Linked DNA regions of Homo sapiens. The protein of the gene in region 1 purifies or fractionates together with the protein of each later gene. This does not show direct contact. Each region holds a gene or a part of one and is shown in the gene's direction. Other genes may lie near its edges.

Evidence for each region.
Region 2: the proteins of CASP9 (region 1) and DCC purify together in Homo sapiens (co-immunoprecipitation; 3 studies listed by BioGRID and IntAct, with this or other methods). This does not show direct contact.
Region 3: the proteins of CASP9 (region 1) and NLRP1 purify together in Homo sapiens (affinity purification with western blotting; 2 studies listed by BioGRID). This does not show direct contact.

The regions. Positions count from the first base shown.
Region 1 is NC_000001.11:15,493,149-15,500,258, reverse strand, and holds part of CASP9 (caspase-9 isoform alpha precursor), read left to right. Parts: intron 1-4,806; coding exon 4,807-4,986; intron 4,987-6,257; coding exon 6,258-6,367; coding exon of another isoform or gene 6,368-6,475; exon of another isoform or gene 6,476-7,110. UniProt on the Homo sapiens protein: Involved in the activation cascade of caspases responsible for apoptosis execution. Binding of caspase-9 to Apaf-1 leads to activation of the protease which then cleaves and activates effector caspases caspase-3 (CASP3) or caspase-7 (CASP7).
Region 2 is NC_000018.10:52,343,173-52,350,282, forward strand, and holds part of DCC (netrin receptor DCC), read left to right. Parts: intron 1-7,110. UniProt on the Homo sapiens protein: Receptor for netrin required for axon guidance. Mediates axon attraction of neuronal growth cones in the developing nervous system upon ligand binding. Its association with UNC5 proteins may trigger signaling for axon repulsion.
Region 3 is NC_000017.11:5,553,412-5,560,521, reverse strand, and holds part of NLRP1 (NACHT, LRR and PYD domains-containing protein 1), read left to right. Parts: intron 1-478; coding exon 479-2,183; intron 2,184-5,923; exon of another isoform or gene 5,924-6,016; intron 6,017-6,378; exon of another isoform or gene 6,379-6,521; intron 6,522-6,965; coding exon 6,966-7,110.

The DNA.
Region 1 (7,110 bases):
CAGTCACATTCTCCAGGAGTGTTTTTGCAGGGGACCCTCTGGATCACTCCTACTCCAACTTCAGCCTATTTTTAAAAAAATTTCTCTTTTTTTTTCTGCAGTATGTATACATAGTTAAATATATATTTATATTTTTTAACCAAAGCTCTTGTTAGATGCCTTCTTTCCTGAGTAGCCCTCTGTGCTCCGCCTTACCCCACCCACCATGAGCCCTACTGCAGAAGACCTCATCCCGGAAGACCTCCGTCAGTGTCTCCACTTCAGTAGCTCTGTAGCTGAGCCATGTGGGGCACAAGTCCTGCCAGGACCTCTCTGTTTTCCAAGCTTGGCACTGCCTTTGGGGAGTCTAGATTTTAAAATGGAAAAGACAAAAAATATGGCAACCTAAAAAAGAAAATAATTCAGAATGTTATAAGCTAATACAGCCATCTCATTTTTGCATCTTCCTTTTGGATTCCAGCCCATGAGCACAGTCTGCTTTTCTCAGCTAACGTTATCCCTTAAGCAGTTCCCCAGATCTCCATGGCCTTCATCATCACTAGCTCAAATGGCTTTATAATGGGCCATTTTCATGACATGCACTAATTTACTAAACCATTTTCCTAATGTCGGCCATTTAGGTGATATCTAATTTTTGGCTCACACAACCACAGGTGTCTTCATATAGAAAGCTTTTGACTGCATTTGAATTATTTTCTTAGGAAATTACTGGATTAGAAGGTGTAAACATCTCCATGGATTTCATTATCCATGACTTGGTGTCTATTTGGTATTTTTCTGATGGCTTCTTTGATTCTAGAAAAGGATTTGCCATAGTGCAAGAAGTACAAATGATAACACTAGGACAAAATAGAGAGGGAACACAAGGAGAGAAGAAAAGTAAAAGTTTGGATTCCAAAAATACATCCTAGGATGTCCTGCAGCTTTCTACAGTTCTCTAATGTACAAGTGAATTAAAAATTTAAGGTATACAACGACTGATTTTAGAGATAAAATCACTTTGCAGATGTAAAGAAACATGGAAAAATCCCAGCCATTGGTAATAGTAGACTCAAAAATGAGGTAGGTCAAAGTCCCAGTCAGCCTCTGTCTGGGGGGAAACCCCTTAACTTATCTCAGTCTCAGTTGCCTAATTACATAAAATGGAATACTGATAGCTACTTGCTAGAGGTGGCCTGCGCATTTTTTACGCTTTCCAGCCGCCATTGGAAATAAGATCATTGGCCAGGGGCGGTGGCTCACGCCTGTCATCCCAGCACTTTGGGAGGCTGAGGCGGGCAGATCACGAGGTCAGGAGATCAAGACCATCCTGGCTAACACAGTGAAGCCCCATCTCTACAAATAATTAGCCAGGTGTGGTGGCACACGCCTGTAGTCCCAGCTACTTGGGAGGCTGAGACAGGAGAATCGCTTGAACCCAGGAGGCGAAGCTTGCAGTGAGCCATCGCGCCACTGCATTCCAGCCTGGATGACAGAGCGAGACTCTGTCTCAAAAAAAAAAAAAAAAAAAAAAAAAGATCACTTTCAAGATCCATGGAATCTGGTGTTCTATAGTTCTATATCTGGTATTTGCAAGACAGAAGTCAGGAATAGAGACTCCAGACACATTTCTTCCCTTGGTTGTCTTAAAGGGGACACTGTGATCTTGACAGCCTGAGTAAAGGGTTTGAGTGAGTGCCTATGATATAGTGGACAGTTTCCTCAACTATATTTCTAAAAAAAGACAAGTTTTATGTCTTTTTAAAAATTGTGGCAAAATACATATAACATAAAATTTACTATCTTAACCATTTTTTTGGGGTGATTGCTTGAGCTCAGGAGTTTGAGGCTGGAGCGAGTTAAGATCATGCCACTTCAATCTGGGCAACAGAGCAAAAGTGTGTCTCTTAAAAAAAAAAATGCCTGTAATCCCAGCACTTTGGGAGGCCAAGGCAGGCAGATTGCTTGAGCCCAGGAGTTTGAGACCAGCCCGGGCAACATGGCAAGATCCTGTCTCTACAAAAAATACAAAAATTAACTGGGTGTGGTGGCACCTGTAGTCCCAGCTACTTGAGAGGCTGAGGTGGGGGATCACTTGAGCCTGGCAGGTCAAGGCTGCAGTGAGCTGTGATTGCACCACTGCACTCCAGCCTGGGTGACAGAATGAGACTCTCTCAAAAAACAAAAACAAAAACAAAAAACAATCCCCCAAAACAAAACAAAAAACCACTGCCCTCTCCCCACTGAATGGTCCTGCCACCCTTTTCAAAATTCATTTGACCACGCATGTGAGGGTGTATGTCTGGGCTCTATTCAATGACATTGACCTATGTCTGTCTTTATGCCAGTACCATACTGTTTTGATTACTGTAGCTTTGTAGTAAGTTTTGAAATCAGGAAGTGTGAGTCCTCCAATTTTGCTCTTTTTCCAGATTGTTTTGTCTATTTGGGGTCCCTTGAGATTCTCGTGTGAATTTTAGGATAGATTTTCTATTTCTGCAAAAAACATCATTGGGGTTTTGATAGGGATTACATTTAATCTATGGATTGCTTTGGGTAGTATTGAGATCTTTAAGTTTTCTAATCCATGAACATAGGATATATTTCCATTTATTTATATCTTTTTTTTTTTTTTCTTGAGACAGAGTCTCGCTCTGTTGTCAGACTGGAGGACTGTGGCGCCATCTCGGCTCACTGCAACCTCTGACTCCCTGGTTCAAGCAATTCTCCTGCTTCAGCCTCCTGAGTAGCTGGGATTACAGGCACACGCCACCACGCCCAGCTAATTTTTATATTTTTAGTAGAGACGGGGTTTCACCATGTTGGCTAGGATGGTCTCAATCTCCTGACCTAGTGATCCACCAGCCTCGGTCTCCCAAAGTGCTGGGATTACAGGCGTGAGCCACTGTGCCTGGCCTATGTCTTCTTTATTTTTCTTTCTTTCTTTCTTTCTTTTTTTTTTTTTTTTTTAGATGGAGTCCTGCTCTGTTGCCCAGGCTGGAGTGCAATGGCACGATCTTGACTCACTGCAACCTCCGCCTCCTGGATTCAAGTGATTTTCCTGCCTCAGCCTCCCAAGTAGCTGGGATTACAGGTGCCCACCACCACGCCTGGGTAATTTTTGTATTTTTTAATAGAGACGGGGTTTTACCATGTTGGCCAGGCTTGTTTCAAACTCCTGACCTCAGGTGATCTGCCTGCCTTGGCCTCCCAAAGTGCTGGGATTACAGGTGTGAGCCACTGTGCCCGGCTCTTTTTCTTTTTTGAGACTGGGTCTTGCTTTGTCACCCAGGCTGAAGTGCAGTGGCGCGATCACTGCACACTGCAGCCTCAACTGCTTGGACTCAAGTGGTTCTCCCACCTCAGCCTCACGAGTAGCTGGGACCACAGGCACATGCCACCACACCTGGCTAAATTTTTTATTATGTGTAGAGATGAGGTTTTGCTGGTCTGGAACTCCTGGGCTCAAGGGATCCTCCTGCCTCAGCCTCCCAAAGTGTTGAGATTACAGGCGTGAGCCATGGCATCCAGCCTTCTTTCTTTCAGCAATGTTTTGTAGTTTTCATTTTACAAGTCTTTCATCTTGGTTAAGTTAATTTCTAACTATTTTATTATTTTTGATGCTATTGTCAATGGAACCATTTTTGTAATTTCTTTTTCTGATTGTTCATTGTTAGTGTATAGAAATGGAAGTATTTTTTGTGGTTGGCTTCGTATCCTGCTAATATGCTAATTTTATTTGTTCTAATAGTGTTTCATCTTTAGGGTTTTCTGCATATAAAATCATACCATTTGTGAGTAGAGATAATTTTACTCCTTCTTTCCAATTTGAATGTCTTTTATTTCTTTTTCTTGCCTCCTTGCTCTATTAACTTCTAGTAATGTGTTGAATAGAAGTGGCAAAAGCAGAAATTCTTGCCTTCTTCCTGATCTTATAGAAAAAGGTTTCAGTCTTTCACCATTGAGTATAATGTTTGCTGTGGGTTTTTCATATATGGCTTTTACTATGTTGAGGTAGTTTCCTTCTATTCTGAGTTTGTTGACTGTTTTTATCATGAAAGCTTGTTGAATTTTGTCATGTGCTTTTTTCTGCATCAATTGAGATGATGATGTAGGGTTTTTTTCATTCTCTTATGAACCCCAAAAATCTGAGACAGGTCTCAGTCAATTTAAGAAGTTTCTTTTGCCAAAGTTAAGGATGCACGCCCAGGAGACAGGTCTATGCCTTTCTCTGAACATGAATTTTAGGGTTCCAAATTTAAAGGGGAAAGGGCAGGATATTGAGAAGTACACAGTTTTCAGGTAAGAGCAGGGTAGGGGGAAATAGTCATTCAAGCATTTGTCTGGCTCAGTGAATTTGCATTTTTACGTAAGGTAACATAGGGCAGGGGAAAATGCAGGGAACCTGCATTTTTACGTAAGATAACAAAGACAAATGGGGCAGGGGAATAATCAGATATGCATTTGTGCCAGGTGGGCAGAGGGGTGATGCCTCTGTAAAGATAAGCTATCCATTTACATTGCCGTGGTGAATTTTATCAGACAACTATCTTGGAGCTCACCAGGAATTTCCTTGTGGGCAAAATATGGGAGAGGTGTGTAGCTTTTCATCTTGTAGCCATCTTATTTAGGAACCAAAACGGGGAGGCAGGTTTGCGTGACCCAGTTCCCAGCTTGACTTTTCCGTTTGGCTTAATGAGTTTGGGGTCCCAAGATTTATTTTCCTTTCACACTGTTAATGTAGTATATTGCACCGACTTTCATATGTTGAACCATCCTTGTCTGTGTATTTCAATGACAAGAGGTGTTTGTTTCTGCTTCCTGCAGAGCAGAAAGACCATGGGTTTGAGGTGGCCTCCACTTCCCCTGAAGACGAGTCCCCTGGCAGTAACCCCGAGCCAGATGCCACCCCGTTCCAGGAAGGTTTGAGGACCTTCGACCAGCTGGACGCCATATCTAGTTTGCCCACACCCAGTGACATCTTTGTGTCCTACTCTACTTTCCCAGGTGAGCACATCAGAAGGGCTCGTCCTCGCAGCCAGTGGGTCTTCCCGTCTGCCCTAGAGGCAGCTGTGTGGTGAGAGAAAAGACCAGGGTATGAGTCCTGGTTCTGTCTTTTGCCCCTCTGTGACCCTGAGCAAGTTACTTCTCTCTGAGCCTCGGCTCAGGCTGAGCGGGCAAGGATGCGCGCTGCAAGGAGGCCTGCGCCCTTGGGTTCCTATGCCTCACTTGCCTCTCCTCTGCCTGACCCTGCCTCTGCCTTCGCATCTTTAGCAGGGGAATAGGAATCGTGCCTCAGGGGTTTCCATGGGAATTAAACAAGGTGGCTGGCACGTCACTGAGCACAGTGCGGGGCACGTAGTAGTTGCAGCAAGCGGTAGTTTCCTTCCTTCTTTTTTTTTTTTTTTTTTTTTTTTGAGATGGAATCTCGCTCTGTTGCCCAGGCTGGAGTGCAGTGGCGCGATCTTGGGTCACTGCAAGCTCTGCATCCCGGGTTCACACCATTCTCCTGCCTCAGCCTCCCAAGTAGCTGGGACTACAAGCACCTGCCACCACGCCTGGCTAATTTTTTGTATTTTTAGTAGAGATGGGGTTTCACCGTGTTAGCCACGATGGTCTCGATCTCCTGACCTCGTGATCCACCTGCCTCGGCTTCCCAAAGTGCTGGGATTACAGGCGTGAGCCACCGCGCCCAGCCTTTTTTTTTTTTTTTTTGAGACGGAGTCTTGCTTTGTCGCCCAGGCTGGAGTTCAGTAGCATGATCTCAGCTCACTGCAACCTCCACCTCCCGGGTTGAAGTAATTCTCCTGCCTTAGCCTCCTAAGTAGCTGGGATTACAGGCATGCATCACCACACCCAGCTAATTTTTGTATTTTTAGTAGACACAGGGTTTCACCATGTTGGCCAGGCTGGTCAAGAATTCCTGACCTCAAGTGATTTGCCCACCTCGGCCTTCCAAAATGCTGGGATTACAGGTGTGAGCCACTGTGCCTGGCAGTTTCCTTCCTTTCTTATGTCTTGGATGAGTCACTTGACTTTTCCAAGCCTTGGTTTCCTTGCTGGGAAAACAGGAATTATAGCCGGAATCAGGGGATGGTCATGAGGGTGAAATAAGATCATGATTAGGGCAGAGCCTCAGGGGCCAGGCTGCTCCTGTTGGATGTATGTATGAGTCAAGGTCTGGAGGGCGCCCGAGCCAGCGTGCATGGCCAGAGGGGTGGTGGGGAGCCGGCGGAGGGGTGGCTCTCCAGCAGTGTTCAGCCCTCCTCCCTCCAAAGGTTTTGTTTCCTGGAGGGACCCCAAGAGTGGCTCCTGGTACGTTGAGACCCTGGACGACATCTTTGAGCAGTGGGCTCACTCTGAAGACCTGCAGTCCCTCCTGCTTAGGGTGAGTGCTGCCTTCCTCTGCAAAGGAGAGGGGAGGCTGCTGAGGGGCAGCGTGTCCTCCTGGGGCTGGGGATTTGGGGTGAGCAGGGCAGGCCCAAACCAAGGGTAAAAGGTAGTAGACTCCTGCCTCTGAGCCTTGGAGTCGGCACTTTTGTGTCTCTTTATGAGAGGCATCCTGCCTGTGGTGACGTTTGCCCTTTATTCAAAGAGTTGCCTTCCCTGTCTCCTCCAAGGTCCCCAGGTTGACACCTCCCGCTCCTCCACTGATGGAGCTGGTCCTCAGTGCCAGCGCAGGATGGCTCTGTCCAGACCCTGAAGGCGGGTCATGGGCCCCTCCCTATATCCTGTGGGCATCATGTAGTCTTCTACTCTTGACCCTCAAGAATTGTGAACCCCTCCTTGTACATCGCCTTCTCAGGAGGCCCCAGTGAGGAAACAGATAGGGAAGGGTGGCCTGATAGGCCCAGTCCTACTCCATAGAAACCCGACTCAGAGCAGTTGCTTCCTCTGAGGGTCCTGTGGCCTTGTGGCTGCCTTGGGAGGCAGCATGTATGGGCCCCAGCTGCTCTGCTCAGGTATTCATGCCACGAGAAGGGGCTGCGAGGCTGGGGCCACTCCTGGCTCCTTGCAAATATTTCAGTCTGATTTGAACTTTATGAATTTGGAAATTTTGAATTTTGAGTTTTTTAAAGGTAAAGTTGAGGTGCGTATTCTTTAAGCCCTCCTGCTCAAAGAGGCTGCAGT
Region 2 (7,110 bases), on another chromosome or scaffold:
GGCCTTTGCTCATTAATCTGAGTATCACTTCTTTCTCTTAGTAATAATTTCCCCTGTTTAGGAACATGGCAGGAAACTTACAACGAGAAAGCATAGTTCACTCTATAAAAGGACCAGTAGGAGGTGCCCTTAATAAGGCCAAGTGTCTAGTTTACTGGCAGAGAAATTCCCATTCAGCCGGGTGTTTTAAAGACTTTGTTGATTGGTAACAAAGGATTATGGAGACTAGCACAATAGCACTGGGCCCTTTCCCACTTTCTAGGTAAAGTCTGAAGCTGCTGTAGATTTGTATGAAACTGTGATGATTTAACAAAGGACAGCCCTGAAAAGTGTCAGTAGAGAGTGAGGACTTGATGTTGGGGGAGGAGGATGGTGACTTTTTAGTTGGCTTCTGTAAGATGTCATCTTCTTATATATTTGACATGAGCCACAGGCACAGGAACCTTATAGAGTCTCAGGGGATCTCAGATAAGATAACAATTTTGGATGTTGGATGTTAATGAGTGAAAAATGAGGCATACATATTAATTAATTCTTCATACATGTTTGGGTTCCATTGCATTGAAAAAAATCTGTGAGTGTTTAATGTAGTCTGGATATGCTGAAATGAGGCTGGTCGCCCTCCCTAGGCGACCTCTTCTCATTCCCCCAACCAAAGCAGATCAGATGCCCCCATGTGGGTTTGCTTTTGAGTGGCGGGAGTATGGCAGAGCCTGAGGGCTCGGGGTAGGCTGGCAGTCCACTCCTCTGTGAGTGCCGCAGTATAAATCACCAGTACCTGTCAGTGTCCATTTCCCACACAGCAGCAGCTGCCCTCTGAGTTATAAAGCATGGGAAACGGCCACCACATGTGTTATATGTGAATATATTAGGCTTAGTGCCTTTGCTTTAATGCTCTTAAAAGCCAGGCTGGCTTGAGATGCTGATAGGCATTTTTTTCTGGGGAGAGATTTATAACTTCTCAGTGTGTATGACTTAAATTTATTCTCTGGCAAGTTAACCTCTTAGCAAACTTCCTTATTGTTTTCATTGAAGAGGAAGAGCCTTAATCCTACCTAAATTCCTGAATGAAGCTCTGCTGAAAGTTTCTGCTAGAGTACAGGATATTTGCAGGCTGTAGTATGGTTTCCTAAACCAATGGGAAGCTTGACAAGATATATGGGGAGGTGATTTTTTGGTGGGGAGGCGGGGATATTTTTACTTGTTTTTAGAGAGGGAAGTTGTGATACTGCATCTTCTAAAGGAATTCTAGCAACTCAGTTATCTCAAAAGCATCTTTAATGAGAGGAAATGTTTCTCGCTTCCAGTTTCATACATCTAACAGTCTGGGATTCTTCAAATGCATATAATATGCTCCTGGAATGTTTGCAGCTGCACGCAGTAGGGTCATCTAGCAGGATCACTGTCATTTGGAAATGAGCCCTGATTTAAATTTTGACTTGCAGACAAAACACTTATCTTTACCTGGTGCGGCATGTTTAAAAGCAGTGCTGAAGTTTCTGAACAGAATATTTCTTTCCATGGGAGACTGTGCCCTAAGATTACATTTTAAAGTAAGTGTTCTTACCATTTCTTTGGAGAATTTGCCATCCCAAACTTTGCATGTGAAACTTCTTCTTCATGATTCTACCAGTAAAGATAACTATTTAAAGAGAATGCAGTTGTTTCCGGGTATTTCTTTAAAATTAAAATTCAATGTCCACATCCACACACAAACAAGGAGGATTTCCACCCCCTCATACCTTCTCCTTCAAATAGCTGACTTTGGTGTGAATTATGATAGCTCTAATTACATAAGGGCACTTGCAATTTCCCTAGAGAATGAGTTCTTGCCTGATTACAGATCTTCCTACTTTCCATAGGAAGTTTCTGGCCCACACTACTATCAGAAACTTGCACCAAATTGGGAACACATTGCTCTGTTTTGGTATTTGCTACCCAGCTATACATTTTTGAAGGATTAATCTACCTCAGATGATAATCTCTTAGATGAACTATATACATAAATTTCAAGAAATCTTAGCTTTGCCTGAGGCCAAAGAATAATGTCACAAACCTGCTGAAATTACTTGATTAATTGATTGATTAACTAAGGATAAAAAGTCACTTGGTTCTGGAAAAGTACTGTACTCCCTAAAGAGTTCTAAAGAGGAATAGTAAATACTATGCACATTTACAATTCATAAAATGTAAACGTCAAGTCTTCTTCCCCCTCTTTTTCCATTCCTTCCTTATAATGCTCTGGAGGAAAATTTAAGAGTTTCATGAGTTGTCACAACAGTTATATCTTAAGGAATCATAGCTTGGAATCTCACTAACTCATGATTAATAGACACTCAATTAAATAGCAACACAATGTCCGGTGAATTTTTCGGCAGCCTGCTGTGGGCTGCTTGCTTGTTTTCAGCTCGTTTCTAAGGAATCAAAACTCTCATCTCTAAGAGGTGTGGCATCAATACTGCCTCCCTTGACGCAGCCCAAGAAAGCCTTTCTCACTCTGAAACCAAGGCTGTGACCCACAGGCACTGTGTTTAATATGCTGTGTTCCACTTTGCAAGGTCAGGGGGATTTGCCTTAAAAATAAATTTTTAAATGTTCATGCATGCTGCTTTTGGTGGAGAGTTAAACTGTACTCTAAAAGCAGCTAAATAGTGTTGTTATCTTAAGACATTCTAACTTGTGGCCTCTCAGCCAATATTATTGAAGTTCTAGAGCTCACAATCTTTAAGAGAGACAGGAGTGAGCTCTATAAGATAATAGGTTATGCCAACCTAGTTAAGCTACTTTTTTCCCCAAAATGGTGTTACCAGGTTGGAATAATAGAACGTTAACCTTTTTCAAAGTTACTACTTTTCAGAGGAAAAAACATTTCTTAATAATATCATAATATCAGTAGCATGGGACTGACCCAATGTATTTAAGATATTGTTCTTCAAAACAAGATATCAAGGAAAGCCAGTGTTAAACTTGTCAAGAAGAAAGGATGAACAATCCAGATTATTTTCCCTGCAGGCCAATAAAAAATGTGCAAGATAGAATTACATGTTGCATATGCCAAATAGGTAATAGCAAAAAATAAAATGTAAAGTATTATGCACCTTTATCATTGCAGGACTCAGGTAAATGAAACACAATTTAGTAACACACTTTTTCTTTCTCTCACTCTAGAATGTTAATTCCTTATCTTATATTTCTCTGGTTTAACTCCAAACTAAGATGGAGAAATACAGGTTGGCTGACTGATGATCAAAATTATTATAGTGCTCCAAAGTTATTTGACAAATTTTAGCCTGAGGTTTAACAACTAAATCCCTTTAATTCAACTATTAAGTGAAAGTGTTTTCTTTGGTAGTTTAGAAATACCTGAGCTTTGTCCCAATGGTGTGGTTTAGAAATACATAATAATGCATAAGATTGAATATGCCTTCTTTTTCAATATTGATGGGAATTTGCCAATGGTAATACCAGTGCATATTGCTCTTTTATTAATAGTTCCAAACAACCATATTATTCACAGCTTTCATTTCTTGGGGGGAAAAGTTCAAGTAGGAAACACACAAATCATTCCATATTTATTGATCATATTTTTAAGGCTATTCTTATGGCATGACTTCTGTAGGAATGTTTCTCTTTTCTAGTAAATTCCACGAGCCCAGTGTCTATGATCTACTTCTACTTCGTGATATACTTTAGCTTAATTTCACTAATCCAAATTTTTTGACTTTTAGCTTGCTCAGTCATTTCACCATGGCCCTCCAGGGAGGAAGACCCTTTAAAACCATTTGTGGTTATGATGATGAAACTTAACAGGAGTATTTATTGCAATTTGGAGATTTCTTCCTGGTTCATCCTTTAAATATTGGTTCTTGCCTGAAGGCTACTCCTAAGAGTATCTAGGACAAACATGTTCCACTGAATTAACTGAATCTTTAGGATGTTATCTGATGAAAATACCAACTGGTTAGTGAATTGTGTTCTGATAAGAGGACTTGTCAATACAACATTATTCTGGGCCATCTACAATGTTCTTAAATCTGTGTTTACATTTTGACAAGAGAAAAAAGAAGTTAAGCAGTTAATATAAATGTTTTTAACTCAAATCACATTTTTAGATTTTACTTATTTTTCTATAGTCTTTTAGAAATATTTCTCCACTCACTTAGCTGCCTCTTTAAAAGTATGTAGAACATAATTTAACCTGTTCTTAATAGATACAATACATCACTATGACTTCATTATAGTATTATGTGATTTTATAGGGATAATTTTTGAAGGCATTGCATCATACAGAACTGTTTATTTTTCCCATCAATTGACCATGGACTGTTACTATTGTTGAGTTTTATCTCTGGCTATAAAATATATTTTGTCTACATCTTGTGTTCAGCTGAAACTTCTCCCTGTATAAAACTTCCTCAAAGCAGTTCTCTCTTTTAGTTTTGATGTTAAGACATAGGGGACTAAGTTTTGTTGGGGTTGTGTTTAAAGTAGGAGAGGAGATTAGAAAACAGCACCTGAATCCCTTATTAGAGGAATATCTAATTAGTTTTAACTAATGATTCTGTAGCATCTGATATTAATTTGGATGTCACTTGTACTTTGTACAACGTATTTTTCCTTATTAAATGAGAATGTGGACTAGATCAACTCTAGTTATTAGTTTCAACACTATATAATTTATTTAAATTATGAACTGTACTATACATATAGTGTTTGGTATAATTAATAATACAATTCATGATCATGATAACAATAATAATAATGTAATAATAACAAATACCCATGTACCCACTAGCAGTTTTCTGATTTTTGTATTAACCCCTTGCCTTTTGTACAGTTTTTCCACATATGTATACATCTTTAACATGTTACTTTACTTGGCTGTTCTTAACAGTAATAAAATAAATATAATGTGTATATTCTCTGACTTGCAATTTTGCTGAACGTTAAGTATCTGAGTTTCATCTATGTGGATTCATATTGCTGTATTTCAGTCACTTTCTCTGGTGTATAATACTTCATGATATTAATTAACCATAGTTTATCTAATCTATTGTTGATGGATTTTGAAATTCAGTTTTTTGCTATTGCTAGTAAAGTTGGCATAAACATTCTGGTGCATGTCCACCAGCACAAATTTGCCACCATGTTTAGGGTGCATACCTAGGAGTGGAATTGCTGAGTCATAGAAGGGTATCTTTTCATCCGGGAGGCAAAGACATGTTGCAGTTACTGAAACCCCCACCAGGGGCAGATGAAAGGCCTCTTTGCTTCATGCCTCTGCCAACACTTGGTATTTTCATATGCTTAATTTGCCCGCATCTGGTAACTTCTCATTGTGGGTTTAATTCGCATTTTCCTGATTGCTTATAAGTCTGAACATTTTTTCCATTAATTTGTTAGCTATTTGTGATGTCAGCAAGACAATTCTATGATTCTGTTTCTTCAACTGAGCAACATTTGCTTTTAGACCTTAATATTATTGGTAGTTATTCTGTTTCTTCTACTAAGCAACCCTTTGCTTTTAGGCATAGATGTTATCAGTAGTCTAATGTTCAGGAAGTTGTCGCCTAATACTTTACCATGTTGACTCTGGCCTAGGCTTTATTTAAGCACCTTCCCAAAATGTACACTGATTTTGAGTTGGAAAAGACATTCTTAGTCACTGTAACATTGTTGATTACCCTGAGCAAGTCCTGCCATGTTAGTATCCTGCCTTATCCTGTTTATTGTGTCTTTATAGAGAATCATTTACAGGGAAGCAGGATGCTGGGATGCCAGGCTTAATTTGAGGCTCCTTATGAATCCCCTGAATATAATGGAACTAAAGGATAACAGAAACACAGAGTAGTAATGGTAGACACCAAATCTGAGTTAAAAATCTTAATATGATCATTTGAATTTGGGTATATTTCCAACATGGTAAAATACATAGGCCCAATATCATTGTTACATTTATGGCATATATAACTGTGGGTTTCAAACAAACGTATGTGCTTTGTGCACCATCCCCCCCAATTTTTGTTTGGGTTTATAATTTTTTCACCTGCTCCCATGGGACAGGCTAATGAAGACCCCTGAATGAAATAAAGCCTCAGATGTACTTGCAGAGGCCTCTGTAGTGTGTTGCCTTCTGTGCAGACTCATTAGAGATGTGAGCCAAGGCTGAGACATCTAAGCAAACCCTCTGCACCCAGAGTCCTCAATCCATTGTTCCTGCATCTTTTTTCAGTCTCATGGGATCCCAGAAGAATACAAATTAGAGAGAAGAATCTGCAAAGCTTTTCCTTTCATGTTTAATGTCTGGGCAGAGCTGTTCCCTGCAGGACAATTTCTGGTTATTTTCTCTCTCTGGTTTGAGGCATCTCCAGGGATGGTTTGGTGACTGTTTCCCTTGGGGAAGTTTTCAGCAGCATATCAGTTTTACTGTTAAAAGTTTATTTTACAATTCATCTGAGATAGTCCTGTTCTAAATGTTCTTTCCATTACCCTTGTCATCTGGCTCTTGATTCCTGCATACCCTTTTCAGTGACACTGCCTCTTCTGGGCTGAAATGTGTTCAATAATTCGAGCTATAAATCACTCTCGCCTCCCCATTTGGTCTTTACTTAACCAGATTATAAATATTTAATTCATTTGATTTTTCCTCATACCACTCCAGAAGCTTAATCATGTTTAGTCTTCTTACTTTAACTCCCTCTAGTTTGTTTATATCTTTCTTGTAATCAAGGGGCCTAACTCTGATGTGCTCTTCTAAGTAAGCTCTCCAGAGTCATATTATAAAATACAAATTCAGCATCATCTTTAGCTTATTGTACAGCCATAGACAAACATATGGTCTCTCAAAACTTGTGTTATCAGTTTTCAGGAAGGACTATCAATGCCTAATAAAATCATTGAGATATTATAAGGACCAAATAAGACCAAGTATTTCATTGAAGATAGTACAATAGTTACTGAGCCTTTACCAACGATTACAAATAGATGAATAAAAGATTTAGATGAGTTTCTGCCCTGCAGGGGCTTTTCCTCCAGTGAAGGTGACAGGCACACACAGAGGTAGGTAGGATACAAGGTAGAACAAAGTACTCACCGAAAAGGGACACAAAC
Region 3 (7,110 bases), on another chromosome or scaffold:
AGGGACACCATTGGCAGGTACTGCAATAGCAGGTGCTTGGGATGCTGTCAGCATCTGCTACACACTCCAGTGTCTCCTCCAGTCCTCCATGACCTACAACCCCCAGCTTACAGATGAGAAAACTGAGGCTCATAGGGGCTAATGGCCAGCATCATAAGCTTAGTGAGGACTGAGAGTTGTGTCTGTTTTGTTCACTCTTTATCCCCAACCCCTATAGCAGCACCTGGCACAGAGTAAGCCCTTGATAAATATTCAGTGAAGGAAAGTCATTCAGGGAGTGTGACTTAGTTGAGTCAAGACTTGAACTGGGATATTCTACCCCAAAGCACATGTCCTTCCGCCGCATGGCAAGAACATACCAGTGTCTGCAGACAGCGCAGTGTGTGGCTTGGAGTAGGTGCCTAAAACAGTTGTTTAATTAATTAATTAATTCTTCTATTCTCTACCTTTATGTTCCTTCTTTCCCTCCCTTACTTAGAAATCAGAGAAAGAGAGAGAGAGAAATCAGAGAAAGGCAGGCCCCCATGGGCAGCGGTGGTAGGAACGCCCCCACAGGCGCACACCAGCCTACAGCCCCACCACCACCCATGGGAGCCTTCTGTGAGAGAGAGCCTCTGTTCCACATGGCCCTGGAAAAATGAGGATTTTAACCAAAAATTCACACAGCTGCTACTTCTACAAAGACCTCACCCCAGAAGCCAAGATCCCCTGGTCAAGAGAAGCTGGCCTGATTATGTGGAGGAGAATCGAGGACATTTAATTGAGATCAGAGACTTATTTGGCCCAGGCCTGGATACCCAAGAACCTCGCATAGTCATACTGCAGGGGGCTGCTGGAATTGGGAAGTCAACACTGGCCAGGCAGGTGAAGGAAGCCTGGGGGAGAGGCCAGCTGTATGGGGACCGCTTCCAGCATGTCTTCTACTTCAGCTGCAGAGAGCTGGCCCAGTCCAAGGTGGTGAGTCTCGCTGAGCTCATCGGAAAAGATGGGACAGCCACTCCGGCTCCCATTAGACAGATCCTGTCTAGGCCAGAGCGGCTGCTCTTCATCCTCGATGGTGTAGATGAGCCAGGATGGGTCTTGCAGGAGCCGAGTTCTGAGCTCTGTCTGCACTGGAGCCAGCCACAGCCGGCGGATGCACTGCTGGGCAGTTTGCTGGGGAAAACTATACTTCCCGAGGCATCCTTCCTGATCACGGCTCGGACCACAGCTCTGCAGAACCTCATTCCTTCTTTGGAGCAGGCACGTTGGGTAGAGGTCCTGGGGTTCTCTGAGTCCAGCAGGAAGGAATATTTCTACAGATATTTCACAGATGAAAGGCAAGCAATTAGAGCCTTTAGGTTGGTCAAATCAAACAAAGAGCTCTGGGCCCTGTGTCTTGTGCCCTGGGTGTCCTGGCTGGCCTGCACTTGCCTGATGCAGCAGATGAAGCGGAAGGAAAAACTCACACTGACTTCCAAGACCACCACAACCCTCTGTCTACATTACCTTGCCCAGGCTCTCCAAGCTCAGCCATTGGGACCCCAGCTCAGAGACCTCTGCTCTCTGGCTGCTGAGGGCATCTGGCAAAAAAAGACCCTTTTCAGTCCAGATGACCTCAGGAAGCATGGGTTAGATGGGGCCATCATCTCCACCTTCTTGAAGATGGGTATTCTTCAAGAGCACCCCATCCCTCTGAGCTACAGCTTCATTCACCTCTGTTTCCAAGAGTTCTTTGCAGCAATGTCCTATGTCTTGGAGGATGAGAAGGGGAGAGGTAAACATTCTAATTGCATCATAGATTTGGAAAAGACGCTAGAAGCATATGGAATACATGGCCTGTTTGGGGCATCAACCACACGTTTCCTATTGGGCCTGTTAAGTGATGAGGGGGAGAGAGAGATGGAGAACATCTTTCACTGCCGGCTGTCTCAGGGGAGGAACCTGATGCAGTGGGTCCCGTCCCTGCAGCTGCTGCTGCAGCCACACTCTCTGGAGTCCCTCCACTGCTTGTACGAGACTCGGAACAAAACGTTCCTGACACAAGTGATGGCCCATTTCGAAGAAATGGGCATGTGTGTAGAAACAGACATGGAGCTCTTAGTGTGCACTTTCTGCATTAAATTCAGCCGCCACGTGAAGAAGCTTCAGCTGATTGAGGGCAGGCAGCACAGATCAACATGGAGCCCCACCATGGTAGTCCTGTGAGTACCCAAACCACCCATGTCTGCAGCTCCTCTGTCAGTCCATAAGCCCGAGTGACCTGAGCACCAGAGGCATGCTCACTGAGCCTGGCCGGGGGTGGGGGTGGCTAAAGGATCAGGGTCTCCAGTGACTTCTAACTGCCCAATCTGACCACCATGCTCTGTCTACCTAAGCTCCTCTGCAGTGCCCGGCTGTGGGGCAGGCCCTGCTTGCTTCTGGAGAGGCCACTGGGCCCTGCCGTGTCTGCCACCTCTCCTCCTACCCTTAGAATGACCGTCCATCTTCTCTCCTGGACGTGCTCCCACCTTCCTGCTGACCTTAGCTACCCCCACACTCCCCAAGGATCAGGCAGCCCCCCTACCCCTGCTCCTCTCTCTGGGCATTCATTCTCTCGGAGAAATTGCTCCTCCAGCTGCTTCAGGAACCCTTTCCATGACAACGACATTGGCCCTGAGATCTTCCCCATCAGCTCTCAAAAAGAGTTTCCTATTTTTCCCTGCAAAACTGACTTCATAATTATTTGTGACCGTGGTGCCACCATTGCCCCACGCACTCAACCTGAAACCCACTCTCTGGCTGTGCAAGAATAGCTTCCTCCAACCATTCTCCAGCCCGGCAGTACTGAGAACTTCCCCATCCCGGTTCCCCGACCTCTGTCGTGGTATCGATCACATGCTATTGGTATGTGTCTATGTCCTGCTTTAGATGATTCATTCCATAAGTATTTATTAAGCACTGATTCTATGCCAGGCCCTACAGATCACAGATTAAAAAGCACAATACGTGCCTTAAGGAGCTCAAAAAATAGGGGAGAAGACAAACATTCATTTAATGACAACAGAGTGTGATGTCTACAACAGTAGAGGTATGGACAAGGTACTGTGGTGGCCCAAGGAAGGGAGTGATCACACGAGTGGGTAATAAAGATTCTCAGAGGAAGAAATGTTTGATGTGGGCCTTCATATTTATATTTTTAAAACTTTTTCTCACAATAAAATTCATGTTCATTATAGGAAAAAAAAAAAGATATGTAGGCTGGGTGAAGTAGCTCACACCTGTAATTCCAGTACTTTGGGAGGCTGAAGCAGGAGGATCACTTGAGGCCAGGAGTTCGAGACCAGCCTGGCCAACATGGCAAAACCCCATCTCTACCAAAAAATACAAAAATTATCTGGGCATGGTGGCACACGCCTGTAATCCCAGCTATTAGGGAGACTGAGGCATGAGAATCACTTGAATCTGGGAGACGGAGTTTGCAATGAGCTGAGATCGTGATACTGAACTCCAACCTGGGCAACAGAGCCAGACTCCGTCTCAAAAAACAAACAAACAAAAGATAACGTAGATAAGCAAAAAGATGAAAAATAGTATCAATAAGAATTCCATCATTCTGTAATAACCATCATTAAAAATTGGCTGGGTGTGGTGGCTCACACCTGTAATCCCAGCACTTTGGGAGGCCGAGGCAGGTGGATCACCTGAGGTCAGGAGTTCGAGACCAGCCTGGTCAACATGGTGAAACCCCATCTCTACTAAAAATACATAAATTAGCCGAAAATGGTGTCAGGCGCCTGTAATCCCAGCTACTCAGGAGGCTGAGGCAGGAGAATCACTTGACAGGTCAGGGGCAGAGGTTGCAGTGAGCTGAGATTGTGCCACTTCACTCCAGCCTGGGAAAAAGAGCAAAACTCAGTCTCAAAAAAAAAAAAAATTAGTGGTCAATTGTAAGAACCCCAGTCTTTTTTCTGTGCACATGTCTATGGCGAAATCGAACCATATTGTACATTTTATTTTATAGTCAGTTTTATTTTCTTTATATATCAAGGCTATCTTCTTGTGAGTGGGTGTGGGGTATTTTTTTTTTTTTTTGGTTTGTTGTTGTCTGAGACGGAGTCTCGCTCTGTCCCCTAGGCTGGAGTGCAGTGGTGCAATCACAGCTCACTGCAGCCTGGACCACCCGAGTTTAAGGGATCCTCTTACCTCAGCCCCGCTAGGAGCTGAGACTACAGGAGCATGCCAACATGCAGCGATAATTTTTGTATATTTTTTGTATAGAGATGAGATTTCACTGTGTTGACCAAGCTGGTCTCAAACTCCTGGGCTCAAGCAAGCTGCTCACCTTGACCTCCCAAAGTGCTGGGATCACAGATGTGAGCCACCATGCCCAGCCCTTCATGTGTGTGTGTGTGTGTGTGTGTGTGTGTGTGTGTGTGTGTGTGTGTAGAGAGAGAGACAGAGACAGAGACAGACAGAGTCTTGCTCTGTCACCAGGCTGGCATGCGGTGGCACGATCTCTGCTCACTGCAACCTCTGCCTCCCAGGTTCAAGCAATTCTCATGCCTCAGCCTCCAGAGTAGCTGGGATTACAGGCACGCACCACCACACCCAGCTAATTTTTTGTCGTCTTAGTAGAAACGGGGTTTCACCATGTTGGCCAGGTTGGTCTTGAACTCCTGACCTCAAATGATCCTTCTGCCTCAGCCTCCCAAAGTGCTGGGATCACAGGCATGAGCCACCATGCCAGCCCTTTATATATTTTTAAGTAGTCTGATACAACACCATTTTGAATGACCACATGCTATTCCATAGGGAAAGTGCCATGGCTGATTTGACCATTCTCCTGTTCTTGGCCATTTTAAGCTGCTTCTAGTTGTTCATAGTTATAAATGTGAGGTAGGCTTTAAAGGACCTGGATACAGGTACTGCAAGTAGCAGTGGACAGGTGGGAAATCTTCAAAGAGTTCCAAGCAGCTAGAGGCAGAGACCAGATGGTGGCTGGCCGGGGGATGGGGGCTGGGATAGGCAAAGGGAACCAAGAACACCAGGCCAGAGAGGAGAGTTTGGGATGGGCGGGAGCAAGTGGAGCCTTAAGAGAATGCCGTGGGAAAGTCAGAGGCTTCAGCCACAAGTGGGAGGAGAAATTTTCAAGGAACTGAATCAGCTAGACAAGGCAGAGAGAAGAATAAGGAAGCTACTATAAAAAAAACAAGAAAGTTCAGGAAGAAAGGGTGGAGGTTGGCCAAGGGCTGTGTGAAGGAAGAGGAGAACCAACCAGAGATATTAAAGAAATGAAGATGACAGGATGGGAGCTTCCAGGTGTTTGGCATGTGATTAAGCATTGTGCATTTTCAAGTATAAATTTTTAATTTTTTTTCAGTCACCTTGATTAAGGATGGCAAATGCCAACGGAAATAAAAAATTTAAAATGTATTTTTCAAGTTTCACAAAACTAAGTAAGTGTAAAAGAAATTCAAGTAAGCTTTCATTTATGGCTTTTTTTCGTGTGTGTGTGTGTGTGTGTGTGTGTGTGTGTGTGTGTGATGGGATCTCACTGTGTCTCCCAGGAATAGTGCAGTGGCATGACCATACCTCACTGCAACCTTGGCCTCCCAGGTTCAAGCCATTCTCCTGCCTCAGCCTCCTGAGTAGCTGGGACTACAGGTGCACACCACCACATTGCCTAATTTTTTTTATTTTTTGTAGAAACAGGATCTTACTATGTTGCCCAGGCTGGTCTTAAACTCCTGGGCTCAATCGATCCTCCTGCCTCTACCTCCTCAAGTACTGGGATTACAGGCTAGAGCCACTGCACTCAGCTGGCTTTTTTTATATGTTTGTAGTACTTGTACTTTCACAGTTATTAAAACTTAAAACTGCTCTAGGACTTTTGGGATACTCTTTAGTAGCTTTTAATTCTCACATACCCCTCTGCAGCAGGTGCTATTGCTGTCCTCTTTTTGCAGCGGAGGAGACGGAGTGAGGGATAGAGAAGCAGAGCCCACATGCAGGCAGCTCCTTGCCTCTGCTTCTTGCCCCCACATGGCTCTGCAGACTTAGGGGAAAAGATGAATTCAGGTTGGGGACTTGTTGGGACAAATTAGATCAAAGAATTACTGGGATGTCAAGGTGGGGATATCCAACCAGAAAATAGAAAACTCAGTCTGAAACTTGGAATAGAGATTTGAGTAGTTGAAGCCTTGGAGGTAGATGAGGTCACTAAAGTAGTGTGTGAAAACAGATTAAATGGGTGGAAATTCCATGAGTCGGAGTCTACTCTAACACCCTCAGACAAAGCCCGTCATCTCTTCCCCTCAGGCTGCAAATATTCTCTCCTAGGGCACTCCCCACAGCCATCCCTCTCCTGCAGACCCTCTTGTTATCCTGGGAAGGGGATAGGGTCCCATGTGAGCCAACCTGGACAGCAGTGCATATGATCATATACAGTCTTCCATCACAACATCCTCAGGCCATCTCTCCCAGGCTCTGCTACTGCCTCCCGTCTTCTTTCCTGGGCACTGGGACTCCAGAATGTCTGTGCCAAAGGAACACAGGTGTGTCTGCATCAAAGGGAGGAAGGCTGTCAAATTTTTTTTAAATTAAAATTGTCAAATTTTTTTAAAAAATTTTTTTCTTATCTGCAGTGCTCAGCACCGAGGCCAGGCCCTATGCTGAGCAGTGCAGATTTAAAAAAAAAAAAAAAAAGACAAATGTCTGTCCCTGCCCTCAAGGAACTCCCAGACTGAGGCAGAAACAGACACACAAGGTGAACACTTCAGTGTGCTATGGTAAGGGCTGTAGAATGAGGAGCCACATGGAGGAGAGGGACCTAGCCCTGGGTGACGGGCAGACAGGCAGGGAGGGCTGGTCAGTACTGGAGATGGCACTACCCGCTGTGGCCTGGTGCTCAGGGGGACAAAGCCCAACTGTGTTGTGCAGGGCTGGGCACCTCAAACCCCTGCCAGACACATCACATCTCTCCTGTCCTTCTCTCTCCCCCTCAGGTTCAGGTGGGTCCCAGTCACAGATGCCTATTGGCAGATTCTCTTCTCCGTCCTCAAGGTCACCAGAAACCTGAAGGAGCTGGACCTAAGTGGAAACTCGCTGAGCCACTCTGCAGTGAAGAGTCTTTGTAAGACCCTGAGACGC